Linked DNA regions of Homo sapiens. The protein of the gene in region 2 interacts with the protein of the main gene of each other region in a pairwise test. Each region holds a gene or a part of one and is shown on either strand. Other genes may lie near its edges.

The links. The genes of interacting proteins can lie anywhere in the genome.
Region 1: the proteins of OTX2 (region 2) and HOMER3 interact in binary tests that used the Homo sapiens proteins (3 or more experiments, as listed by UniProt).

Annotation. Positions count from the first base shown.
Region 1 is NC_000019.10:18,927,639-18,931,217, forward strand, and holds the end of HOMER3 (homer protein homolog 3), read right to left. Parts: intron 1,997-3,579; coding exon 1,805-1,996; 3' UTR 1,565-1,804; downstream 1-1,564. Other genes in the region: probable ATP-dependent RNA helicase DDX49, read left to right, coding at 128-216, 327-398, 490-678. UniProt on the Homo sapiens protein: Postsynaptic density scaffolding protein. Binds and cross-links cytoplasmic regions of GRM1, GRM5, ITPR1, DNM3, RYR1, RYR2, SHANK1 and SHANK3.
Region 2 is NC_000014.9:56,799,337-56,808,642, forward strand, and holds the end of OTX2 (homeobox protein OTX2), read right to left. Parts: intron 6,332-9,306; exon of another isoform or gene 6,240-6,331; 5' UTR 6,121-6,239; coding exon 6,024-6,120; intron 5,028-6,023; coding exon 4,852-5,027; intron 3,020-4,851; coding exon 2,399-3,019; 3' UTR 569-2,398; downstream 1-568. UniProt on the Homo sapiens protein: Transcription factor probably involved in the development of the brain and the sense organs. Can bind to the bicoid/BCD target sequence (BTS): 5'-TCTAATCCC-3'.

The DNA.
Region 1 (3,579 bases), on a different chromosome or scaffold from region 2:
CCTTACCTGATATGGCCCCAGATGGCCTTGCATACCCCACAGCATGGGGAACTCACTACTTGGCTGAACTCCCTCTCCATGTCACGTCTCCTCCCCACCCCCACCCCCGGCTTTGCTGTCCCCACAGAGAAGAAGCTGGAGGAGTTCTCCGTGGAAGAGGCCGAGGTGCTACAGATCCTCACACAGGTCAACGTGGTGCGAAGAGAGTGTGAGATCGTGAGTGTCAGAGGCGGGCAGGAACTAAAGTGCTCTCCAGGGCCGGGGGTGCTCCCTTCCAGGTGGGGCCCCCGTGACCAGCATCTCCTTACCCCACTTCCCTCCACCAGAAACTGGAGGCGGCCCACTTTGACGAAAAGAAGGAGATCAACAAACGGAAGCAGCTGATCCTGGAGGGGAAGGTGAGGGCCGAGCCCGCAGGTAGGGGGTGGGTGGCCAGGTTCCCTGGCGGGGGCCGCCAGCTCAGCCATCCCCTGGTCCTCCCTGTGCCAGGACCCTGACCTGGAGGCCAAGCGCAAGGCTGAGCTGGCCAAGATCAAGCAGAAGAACCGGCGCTTCAAGGAGAAGGTGGAGGAGACGCTGAAGCGACAGAAGGCTGGCAGGGCTGGCCACAAGGGGCGTCCACCCAGGACACCGTCTGGGTCCCACTCAGGCCCAGTCCCCTCCCAGGGCCTGGTCTGAGCCCCACACGGCCATCTGCCCAGTCCTTGACTCGTCCATGGAGCTGAGGGTCGGAGGAACCTTCCTTGGGGGCAGCAGCCCTTCCCGGGGGCCTACCCAGTGCCCCACAGCAGAACCCGTGGGCGCTCGTGTTGTGCGGGCCCTGCTCCTCTGCCCCGAAACCACTGGCTGGTCCCTTCCCTGAGCCCTGGCCAAGATTCAGGCTGCAGGGGAAGAAAGAACATGACCGGGAGGTTGTGACCCCAACCCAAGGTCACCCCCCAGGGGTGCCGCATACAGGAGGTGCTTAATAAACGGGTCTTTTGACTTCCTCAGTCTGACTTTCGAAGAGCAGGGGGACAGGAGAGGTGGGGTGCAGCCGCTGTTGTTTCTCAGGTGTCTGCCCAGAACACCATGTCCATTTCCACCAGGCAGGCCCAAAGTTTTGCAGACACCAGCTGCTCGAATGGCCATGGGATTTTGGGCCCTGAAGCCCCTTCTCTGGGCTTCCAGTTTCCTCATCTGGAGAATGGGCATAGCAACTGCCCTGCTCTCCAGAGGCAGCTGTGAGGCTTTGGTGAGGTCAGTCCTGTGCCGAATGGGTGCAGCTATAAGCTTCCCTGGCCACCCACCTGGCCACATCTGGGGTTTGTGGCCAGAGTGAAGGGGCCATGAAAGTCCAAATTTGGCCAGACAATGTGGGCTAAGCCCAAGGGGACAGGCAGAGAGACACCAGAGCCAGCTTCCTGGCTGTGTGGCCTGGACCCCCCTCGGACTCCAAGCCTCACCCCTCATCTGCAAGCGGCTTATAACTGCTACATGGATTCAGGGGCACCCAAAAAGACGCAGGGAAAGGCGCCGGCGACATGTTAAGTGCCCAGATACCCACATACCACACACACACAGCCACGCTTAGAAATGTAATCGGGGGATCTAGAAATTCTACACAATGAGAAGCTCAAAAACAGCCCCAAAGCTGCCAACAACCAGAGCCGACTGGGGCCCACCCCAGCCCAGCCCGGCCCGGCCCACCCAGGGCTAAGTTGGGACCCCCCAGTCCCTTTCCAGGACGAATGGGCCCAACTATGCCGCCTGCAGCCTGGCCCGCATCCCAGGCCGGAATCGTTCATAGAAAACCAGCCCCGGCTCAGGGCGCAGCCTCAGCCAGGCGGGCCAGGCCCTCACGCAGCTCACTCAGCTCAAACAGGCTGACGTCCAGCAGCTGCGCTGCCCGGCCCACCTCAGCCCGCGCCCGCTCCCGCTCTGCCCGTGCCTCCTCCAGGCTGCGCTCCATCGCCCGCAGCTGGTGCTCCAACTCCGCATTGCGGGTCTCCAGGTCCTGCCAGGAAAGGGTGGGCAGGGTTGGGGGCCCCAACAAATCACCAGTCCTGCCCGAGGCATCCAGAGTCTGACCACCTTCATGTCCCTCTTCTGCCCAGAGCCATCCTAGGGCGCCCAACACACCAGGAATAAAATGCACACCCCACAGGGGCCTAGCTTCTGCCCTCATTTCTTTTGTTTGTTTGTTTGTTTTTGAGAAGGAGTTTCGCTCTTGTCGCCCAGGCTGGAGTGCAATGGCGTGATCTCGGCTCACTACAACCTCCGCCTCCCAGGTTCAAGCAATTCTCCTGCCTCAGCCTCCCAAGTAGCTGGGATTACAGGCATACACCACCACGCCCAGTGATGGCTTACACCTGTAATCCCAGAACTTTGGGAGGCGGAGGCAGGTGGATCCCCTGAGGTCAGGAGTTCAAGACCAGCTTGGCCAACATGGTAAAACTCCATCTCTACTAAAAATACAAAAATTAGCTGGGCATGGTGGTGCACACCTGTAGTCCCAGCTACTCTGGAGGCTGAGGCAGGAGAATCGCTTGAGCTCAGAAGGCGGAGCTTGCAGTGAGCCGAGATCGCGCCACTGCACTCCAGCCTGGGTGACAGAGTGAGACTCCATCTCAAAAAAAAAAAAAAAAGGCTGGGCGCAGTGGTTTACGCCTATAATCCCAGCACTTTGGGAGGCCGAGGCGAGTGGATCATAAGGTCAAGAGATCGAGACTATCCTGGCTAACATGGTGAAACCCCGTCTCTACCAAAAAATACAAAAAATTAGCCGGGCATGGTGGCGAGCACCTGTAGTTCCAGCTACTCGGGAGGCTGAGGCAGGAGAATGGAGTGAACCTGGGAGGCGGAGCTTGCGCCACTGCACTCCAGCCTGGGCAACAGAGTGAGACTCCGTCTCAAAAAAAAAAAAAAGTACCCCCTGAACATTTCTCAGATAAAGCCTTTAGCAAAAGCCAAGCCAAGGCCAGTCGTGGTGACTCAAGCCTATAATCCCAGCACTTTGGGAGGCTGAGGGCAGATTGCTCACGGTCAGGAGTTCGAGACCAGTCTGGCCAACATGAGGAAACCCCATCTCTACTAAAAACACAAAAAATGCCCGGGCACGGTGGCGCATGTCTGTAATCCCAGCACTTTGGGAGGCCGAGGCGGGCAAATCATGAGATCAGGAGTTGAGACCAGCCTGGCCAACATGGTGAAACCCTGTCTCTACTAAAAATACAAAAAATTAGCTGGGTGTAGTGGCGGGCGCCTGTAATCCCAGCTACTCAGGAGGCTGAGGCAGGAGAATTGCTTCAACCCGGGAGGTGGAGGTTGCAGTGAGCTGAGATCGTGCCATTGCACTCCAGCCTGGGCAACAGAGCGAGACTCCATCTCAAAGAATTAAAAAAAAATAAAGCCAAGCCAAGCCAGACCTAGTTCCAATGCAGGCTCTGTGATCTCAGGCTGAGAACAGGAGGAATTGACGGGGTCTGGCATGGGAATACAGCAGGAACTCAAGCATTGCTTGTTGAACCCATAGATGGATATGAAACTGTACCAACAGCCACTGTTCACGCGGCACCTGCTGGGCATCAGGCCTTCCAC
Region 2 (9,306 bases):
TCGGTCAGAGGAATTCATTTCTACTTCGCCTTTGATTCAAAGGGATTTAACTGCGTGGTCTTAGTTAAGAGAAGTTGTGCAGAGGTGATGGAAAAATTAGTTTCAGAGGGTGCTCAGTGCCTCTTCTTTCTGACCTTTTTTTTAAAGTTTCAGGAGAGAAACTGCCAACTGCGTTATTTGCTGAGTAGCCCAATGTTTATCGTCATTATTGTTTTTAAAGAAGGGGTAATCTTTCCCTGCCCCTTGCGGGACATCCTGAAAACTGAAGGCAATGGTAGAAAATGGTTATTTTGATTCTGCATTACTGTTGCAGAAGAAAAGCTGGGAGATTAAGACACTGAATCTGGGTAAACCTCAGGCCCCAATTTAACTTCGTGTAAACTACAGTATGTTGAAGGTTATCAATAGGTGCTGAAAACTCTTGCCATCAAATTTGGCCTCAAATTTTGGTTGCAAACTATTGCATTTCCTTTACCAGCGAACCAATTTACTTATTAGGAAAAATTACAGAGTTCAAGAGAGCATGCGCAGCCAGGGACCGGAAAAATGAAATAGCCAGAAAACAAAATGGTTGCAACTGCTAACCTTCATTTAAAACGTTACAATCAAGAGTCACTTAATTTTGGTCAGCTGTAAGAGCTTAAGCAGCTTAAAATGAAATTAAATATTGCTTTTACCTGAGGAGCACCATGATCATTGGCCCATTTGTCTTTTCTGGTGACTGGTTTACAAAATGCAGGTACAACTGAAAAGGGACCCATTTTTTCCCCCTCGGCACTTTCTTAAACACATACACACAAACTGACCAGGGTGCCTTATGTTCAACTACTGAAATTATAGGTTTTAAAACTTTTCTGAAACTCTTTTGTTCAGGAATCATTTCTGCCTGAATTACTTTCAGATTCTGATTACACTCCCTCTCATGTTTACCTCAGTTTTTGGAAGTTAAAAAAAAAAAATCCCCTTAATCAAATAAGAGAATAGTAACAAGAAATTCTTGTCATTCTCATGTTTTCAGAGATACTCCAATTCTCCTCCTCCCTCTTAAAAACTTGATATATTTTAAAACATTCTAATAAAGTGCCTAAGAAATCGTTCAGGTTTGAAGTAGGGAGGGAAAAGCAAGGAAAACAAGATCTTGTTGTTAGGCTCTCCAAACTCAATTTCAGAGCAATCCTGATGAAAGTCACAAAAAGTCTACCTACCACTGTCATTCATATCTATTTTATGCATAGATTAGCAAAAAAAAAAAGTAAAAATAAGTTTGCTAATTTACTCTCTGTCCTAAGAAAAACGTGTTTTGGGGAGGAAAGGCTGAATGTAGGCTTCTTATTCATAAATAGCGGTGTAAAATTAAACTGGACCCAATGTTGTGCTAGAACCATTTTAATATAATTATACATATCTGCCAAATCCAGGAAGAAAAGGTTTATGCATATATAACTTTTCCATTTAACATCTGCAAGCATAAACGACAATGATCTCAGTTTAATAATTCATCAGGGTCAGAGCAATTGACCAATGTCTCTTTACTGCTAGGCTTACCAACAGTAAATTACAGATGAATTAGTGTCCTTTTGCTTCTCTTCTCTGACTCTCTTTGTCCAGAGACATTTTGTCGTAAAGTTTCAGTGCAGCTCACCTCCAGCCAAAGGTAATCTTTTTAGATCAGTACTCAGTTGCTCTGAATTTTGCTTATAATTATAACCTATTTAATCACAGAAGAACCCCTGCAGAGGTGGAGTTCAAGGTTGCATACAATAACAGGAGATCACAGTTTTGAAGTCTAGCACAGATTAAAAACCACAGATGTACCATTTATAAGACACACACTGATTGTCTCTTAAACTACATATTGACTCCTTATGAACATTATTTTTTAAATAAAGTAGTGCATCTAGGACAATCAGTCACACAATTCACACAGCCCTGAAAAGTTTTTTCAGTGCCAACTACCAGTTGGTCATGAAACGTGAATGAGCTTGAGACACTGTTCATTCCTAAGATTCAACCAAGGATTGGCTAAAACAATGGAACACCTCTGCTTAAGAAGGCTATGACCTTCCCTCCCTTCCTTCACAACTTAGTTTTGTTTGATTTTATTTTTGGTGGTGTTTGGTTGCACATGGCTAGAATGCTTTTGATCACTTTGCAAATCAGGATAACCAATGATCTAAAACTATGACAGGATCTTAAGCAGATTGGTTTGTCCATTTCATGTTGCTGGTTTGTAGGCCCCTCTAAGGCCCTTCGTTTTTCCTTCTATGCCTCTCGGAACTTTGATCAGATGAGTCTGAGCATCATCCCATCTAACTCTTTTAACCAATGCCTGGCTAAAACTGGAATGTCCAGCCCAGTATATTTAAAAATCACCCACAAAAAGAGGTTCTACAGGTCTTCACAAAACCTGGAATTTCCACGAGGATGTCTGATCTTTATAATCCAAGCAGTCAGCATTGAAGTTAAGCTTCCAGGAGGCAGTTTGGTCCTTATAATCCAAGCAATCAGTGGTTGAGTTAAAACCCAAGCTTGAAGCTCCATATCCCTGGGTGGAAAGAGAAGCTGGGGACTGATTGAGATGGCTGGTGACTGCATTGGTACCCATGGGACTGAGTGTGGCCCCTGGTCCGGGAAGCTGGTGATGCATAGGGGTCAAATATGATCCACAGTCCATGCCCCCAAAGTAGGAAGTTGAGCCAGCATATCCTTGACTATAACCTGAAGCCTGAGTATAGGTCATGGGATAGGACCTCTGCATGCAGGAAGAGGAGGTGGACAAGGGATCTGACAGTGGGGAGATGGAAGCTGGGCTCCAGATAGACACAGGAGCACTGCTGCTGGCAATGGTCGGGACTGAGGTGCTAGAGGGGGGAGTGAATTGGCCACTTGTTCCACTCTCTGAACTCACTTCCCGAGCTGGAGATGTCTTCTTTTTGGCAGGTCTCACTTTGTTTTGACCTCCATTCTGCTGTTGTTGCTGTTGTTGGCGGCACTTAGCTCTTCGATTCTTAAACCATACCTTGGAAGGGAAAGAAAATTCTTTAACTCGGTTTTGATAGTTCCTTAAGGACAAGAATGGCTCCCGTATTATAAATCTATCCTACATGGGCAGATCAGCTAAACACACAATTTCCCCTGCCACTGAAGACCTATTATGTGGTACTCTCATATAAACTCCTGGACTTGTAAGAAAGTTGGGGAGGCTCTGTCTAAAAACACTTGACACTGTCTTATTTCTTGCCCAGAATAACATTTAAGATAATCCCCCAAATCATATAGCTAAAAACTCTCCACATCACTTTCCTATCTTATTTCGCCTCTAACACACACATACACATAGACCCAGCTATATTTTGGAACACTCTCACAGAGGAATAGAATGTATCTCTGTCTTTTGGAGGGAAATACATGAGAAGTGAGAGAAAGCAATTCTGTTGTTACAGGCTAACAGGAACAGCCTAAATTCATTTACAGTTCATCTTCCAGGAAGCAACTGCTAATATAGAGGTTGGTTGGTTCCATCACCCTTCTGTCTCTCTTAGAAAGACTCACAGAACAAAGCTCCAAGGGGAAGACATGATCTTGTTGAAGAAAGAGGTCTGAAAGCCACTATTTGCTAAAAGCTTCTTTGTGGTAAAAGGAGTGACTTACATGCACTCTGCTTTGAGCTGGAGCACAGACCTGCTAGTCTCTGGGACTCGAGTCTGTGTTGTTAGAGTAGTGCCACTCAGCACATAGACTCAGTCTCCTGTGCTGTGTTTACTGACTTACCACTTCAACCCCCTGCTGCAATCTTGACAATTCTCTTTACCAGCCCTGTTCATGTTCTGCAATGAAGGAGCTATGATTGGTGTACGAGGGGGCTTAGAAGAGGAACTACTGGCATTTTCTGGAGGACAAATCCTTAGCTGAACTTTTGAATGAGCTCTCTGTATGGGTGCCGTAACTGTGGTAAAAGTGAGGCCACCAAGGCCAAGCTCAAGACCACCAACCATTTGGAGCCATTTGTTTTCTCCTAGTGAGGACTTTGGTTCAAGCCTTGCAAGTGCTAAAACTTCCTCTAACCTACTTTGAAAAAGCCCCTTTCCCAATTTGCAGCTGACACTGATGTCTGTCGCTTTCATAAACATATTCTAGCCGAAGGAGAGGCCCAGGTGTGTATGTGGTTTATGTGCTAAACACTTTGCAGAGAATTCTGTACAGGGCTCACTCACAAGGCAAGCTGGAGTTGACCTTCCCTCTCCAGTTTAAGGTCAAGTTTAGGGGAACTAAAACAAGAGGGGTGTCACTAGAGACATTATGTAGATATTTTATCTGTTAAATGGCTCAGAACTAGAAAATTCTCTTCAATCCCTAAGAAGTCAAGGAAAATACATTCTTTTTGTGTTGATTTATTTGGTAAAAGCACCAGCTGCGTCTATACCCTGACTCTGCCACCAAACTTAGTTATGACCTTGAGCAAGTCATTTACTCTATTTTTTCATCTGTAAAAATACTTGGACTGTCCAAGAGCTAAGCTGCTTTCACACGTACAAGTCCATGAGAATAGGAGAGGATTTCTATACAGAGGAAGGGAAGGGTTACAACACCACGTGACTACTCTTGAAACCTGCTCAAGGATGGGTCTCTCTCCACCAGCAACCCGGGCCTTGAAGACCCTTGCTTACGGGATTAAGTGGTGACGGGCAGGCAAAAAAGGGCAGAAGGAGAATAGTTTCCTGGCCCCTTAGTGAGTGAAGGAGAATTTCAAGCCTTCCTTCAGTCCTCTGAAAGACCTGGGGCTCTCCACAGTCCCATACTCGGGAAGGGTGGCATGATCAGGAAGGATGGTTCTGCCTGCATCTGCCCTACCTGCACCCTCGACTCGGGCAAGTTGATTTTCAGTGCCACCTCCTCTCGCATGAAGATGTCTGGGTACCGGGTCTTGGCAAACAGTGCTTCCAGCACATCTAGCTGCGCCCGAGTGAACGTCGTCCTCTCCCGGCGCTGTTTCCGGGGGGTGGCTGCGGGACAAGAAGCCCAGGGCCCTTTAGGGTGGGGGAGCAGTTTCTCAGTCATAGGCGTTTCCGCGGGTTCTCCGACGCCCCTGCCCTCCACCCCGCAGCAGTCCCCCGTTCCTCACAGCCCTTCAGCCGGGAGCCTACCAATGCTCTCCCCACCGTCTCCCCAGCCTTGCTCCCCGGGGACCCAGGACACACGCTGCTTCTTTCCCTACTCTTCTTGGTGTTGAGATTGCTCCAATCAGAGCATCACTTGGAAAGTTAACAAATGAAACATTTTTTAAAAGACACACAAAAAAGTTCTCCAAGATCAACCCCCAAACCACAACACAAAAAGGCTATTCCAAGAAGTCAAAGGATCTCCGAGGACAGACTGGCAGCTCGAATTGATGGGGGAAATCTGGATCCTGTTCCCATGGTTTTTAGCACACCATGGGCCTTTGTTCCTCCATCTTTAAAATGGGGACATAGTTCATACTCCTGGGAGGATTTTTAAACATATCTGATTGGAAAGGAAAGCACCCGCATTTGGAGGAAGTCACGCCTCTTGGGATTAAAGCAGGCTCTGGAGGTCATAGGGGAAGGCCTGGGCATGGAGGGAACAACTGCGAAGCCCGAGAGTGCTAAGGACTTACGGAGGGAAAACTCAGCTTCTCCAAGAGGACACTTCTGAGGAATTGGTCATTGAGATATGGGTAGGGGTCTTTTGCCCAAATGACAAGGACAGTAACCTTCCTCATCCCACTCTGATGCCAATCCTTATTTACTCGAATTAAGAATAAAGTGATGTGATTGTAACGGTTGCAGACCCACCTACTCACTTTTCCCAACCCCTGTTCTCTGCTTGGTCAGTAAATGCCCTGGGACTGCTTCCTCAGAAGGCAAACCTAGAGGAGACCAAGCCTGAAGCTGGGTGGGGACAGTGTGACTGCCAACCCCCGTGTTCCATGGGAACAGGGTGTTGCATCCCCGGAGGGTGGGCATGGGGAAGAGGGGTGCGGGAGTGCAGCAGGGCTCACTTACCCGGGTAGCCCACGGAGGGGTGCAGCAAGTCCATACCCGAAGTGGTCAGACTCAGCCCATTGACTGCGTAAGGCGGTTGCTTAAGATAAGACATCATGCTAAGGTTGTTTGGAGGTGCAAAGTCGGCCCAAATCGGGGGTACCCAGCTGGAAGATCTTGATGCGCCCGGGGTGGACAGGTTCAGAGTCCTTGGTGGGTGGGTTTGGAGCAGTGGAACTAAGGGCAAAGCAAACAAACAAACAGAGGGGCTGGTTTACTGCTTCGGAGGCAGCAGCTCTTCCACGTTCCAGCACTAACTTAAAAAGAGCACGGACTAGGCGAGGCAGAGGCTTTTAAAGGACTTGCAGACACTCCCCCCACCCCCATCCCCACCCCCACCCCCAGCTGCTCTGGAACTAGAGGGGATGGAAGGAGACCAGATAAACCTGTCTTCCCCACCCCCACCCTAAACTTAAAAAAAAAAAAAAAGTACCCGAAGAAAGCAATTACAATCTGCCTTCCCCAAGAACAAAAACCCGTGCCTTCAAATGCACACATTGCATTCCTATCCCTACATTTGCATAGGACTCATTGGCTGGCACTAGCTAATTGTCTCAAACAAAACTTGATTGGGGCCATTTGCAGAGACAAAGAACTCTTTGGCTAAATAAATAATGCTGATAACAAAGCCCATTGGTGAGAAACAAAGAAACAATTCAAGAAATCTACCTCTCCCCAGACTGTTGCCTTTCCATGGCAGAGATTTTAATTATCTTAGCTTTTTACCACTTTCAACTGCTGCGAACCTAAAATGTCAGTGCGTTTAACATCTAAAATACCAACTCACTAAACCACAAACTTGGAAAAACCGCTCAACCACTATTATTCCACATTTGAAGTCATTTCCGGTAATCATTTTCACCTAATTAGTAGTCTGGGTAATTAGATTTCGAGGTAAGTAACAGATTTATTAGGGTTTTGGAGAATCTTGATTATATGTGTCTAAGGAACGAAAGCTAAACAAACAAGTATTTAACTTTTAATAGACACCCATCAAATATTTAAGCATATTCCAAAAAAGTCTTCAAGATTGGCACAGGGCTTGCCAGAAATTGTGAAGTAAAGTTAGAATCCCACCAATCAGATAATGACGGGACCCCACATTTGTAGTGCAAGCTGCTTCCATGTTGATTTTGATGTGTGGAGGCTGCAGATCCTGCGGGAGGCAAATTTTCAGACATTTGGGTCCTCGGCAGCTGCAGCAGAGTTTCCTGTTAACTCTAACTGCCTTTTGCACATTTTAGTTTTGAAGAAAGTAGATACACAAACACCCAAAGTTGTGAAACTAGTAGAATTTCTCCCTACCTTTCAAGTTTCCTACAATCCTATAAGAAAAAGAGCTCAAGGGGGAAAAGAAAGGAAGAAAAAGAAAAGTTATTTACTTTCTTCAGCTGAGCTCCCCGCCTCCACCCCAGCAAAGAGATTCAAAGTAGATGTTAATATAGACTGGCAGTTTGCAAGTCTGGCCTTTATTTTCCTAAAATGTGGCACTTATATGCAAGGATCTCTACTTTGAAACTTTGACACCATGAGAGATTGCTTCAAAATGGCGGATACAAGATAAAGGTCTCACTGACTTTAAAGGACTCCGGGTTTTCATATTTACGTTGCTTAAGACAGCAAGGCACAAAAGTCCATAAATGAAACTTAGTAACTGCAACTTCTTTCTGATTTAAATTCAGAGCACAAAAGTCATGCTTTTCTACCCTAAGATCTAACTTAATATAATTTTATAAATGTCTTTCTTGGAGGAGTTTGTATTATCCTCAGTACAACTAATTTAGTTGCCCCTACAATACAGACTTTATGTTTTTGTATTGTCTTTTCTTTTCAAAATGCTGTTCTTTGGAGGCTGCGAAAATAAACAAAAATCTCCAGCTTAGAGGCTGTTTAAACACATATGCGACAGCTTTAAAATACAGTTGTATATGTGTTTAAACAGCCTCTAAACTGGAGATTGGAGATTTTTTGTTTAATCGTACTACCTTGCAAAATTCTGAACTACAGTGCTATAGAGAATCGTAAAATCATATCAGATGTACCCTTGAGAAATATGGAAATGTTCTTACATGTAGAGCTCTCACCCAATTAGAAATGCCTGACACATCATACAATAAAGTAGCACATTCCAACATAAAAAGCCAGTAACACACAGAAAGCACCAGGGCCGAGATCCTTCCAGGGGCTCCTTTGCCCTTACCATTGCAAAATGGCTAAAATTCTCAAAATAGACTATTTTCACTTTTGCTCCTGGATCCACCTTTAAAAGGAAAAGAGGAAAACCAAAACCCAAAACTAAGAGATTCTCTCCACAACCGGCCTAGGTATGCACTCTGCATAGAAGGCATGGGCCCTTCAATCTAACTTTCAAAGCTCTTTTCCTCTCGAAGCAGGGTCCAGAACGGGGAAAAGAAATAACTTTTGAAAAATCCACGCCTCACTATGACTGCTCACGAGGTGGCCTCTGGAGAACTCATACCTAGAAGCTGACCGCGGTCGCGCGGCGAGTTCCGGCAGCCGGTCGGCGACCGCACCTCCGGGCGCGAGTGCCTGGGTCCCGCGTTCCTGCCCGGCAGCCCCGCAGCCCCGCAGCCCCGCAGCCCCGCAGCCCCGCAGGCCTGGCGCCCGAGGTCCCGCTCCACTGCCCGCGCCCCCCGCGCAGCCTTATATCTAACGGTCAATTCGTGCAATCTGTCGCTTCTCCCTCCCCCACGCCTTGTTTTTTTTTTCTTCCAAGAAGCCCATCTACCAGTTGCTGTGTCCTCGCTCAACAATAATTACCTCGTCCGAGAATTAATTATAATAAATGTTTTCTTGATAAACTAACGAGATAATCCGAGGGGCACACGTCCCTTAATTACAGGCCGCCATGCTCCTCTCTGCTTCTCGTCCGGGCTGATTAATTTTCTGCATGATGGAAAGGAAACAAAACTACGCGGACTGGCGACTGGCCTGCGGCTGGGAAGACGACGAAGAGGAGGAAAGAAAGAAAAAGGAGACGTGTGGGCACCGCGGAAAACGGCCGGCGCTGGCCTCTCTCCGGCGAACTCGAGTGAAAGTTTCTGGCCTCGGGGAATCAAATAACTCTGCCACCCGCGAGGGAGGGAGGAAGAAACGTGCCAAAAGGGTTGGCCTTGACTATTAATTATCGTTGGGAGAAAGCCCCGGTGTTAGCGCTGAGGTCTGGGTGTCTACCTTACTCTGGGGGGAGGAGTTCCCTCTCCTACTCCCCTCTGTTGCTAAT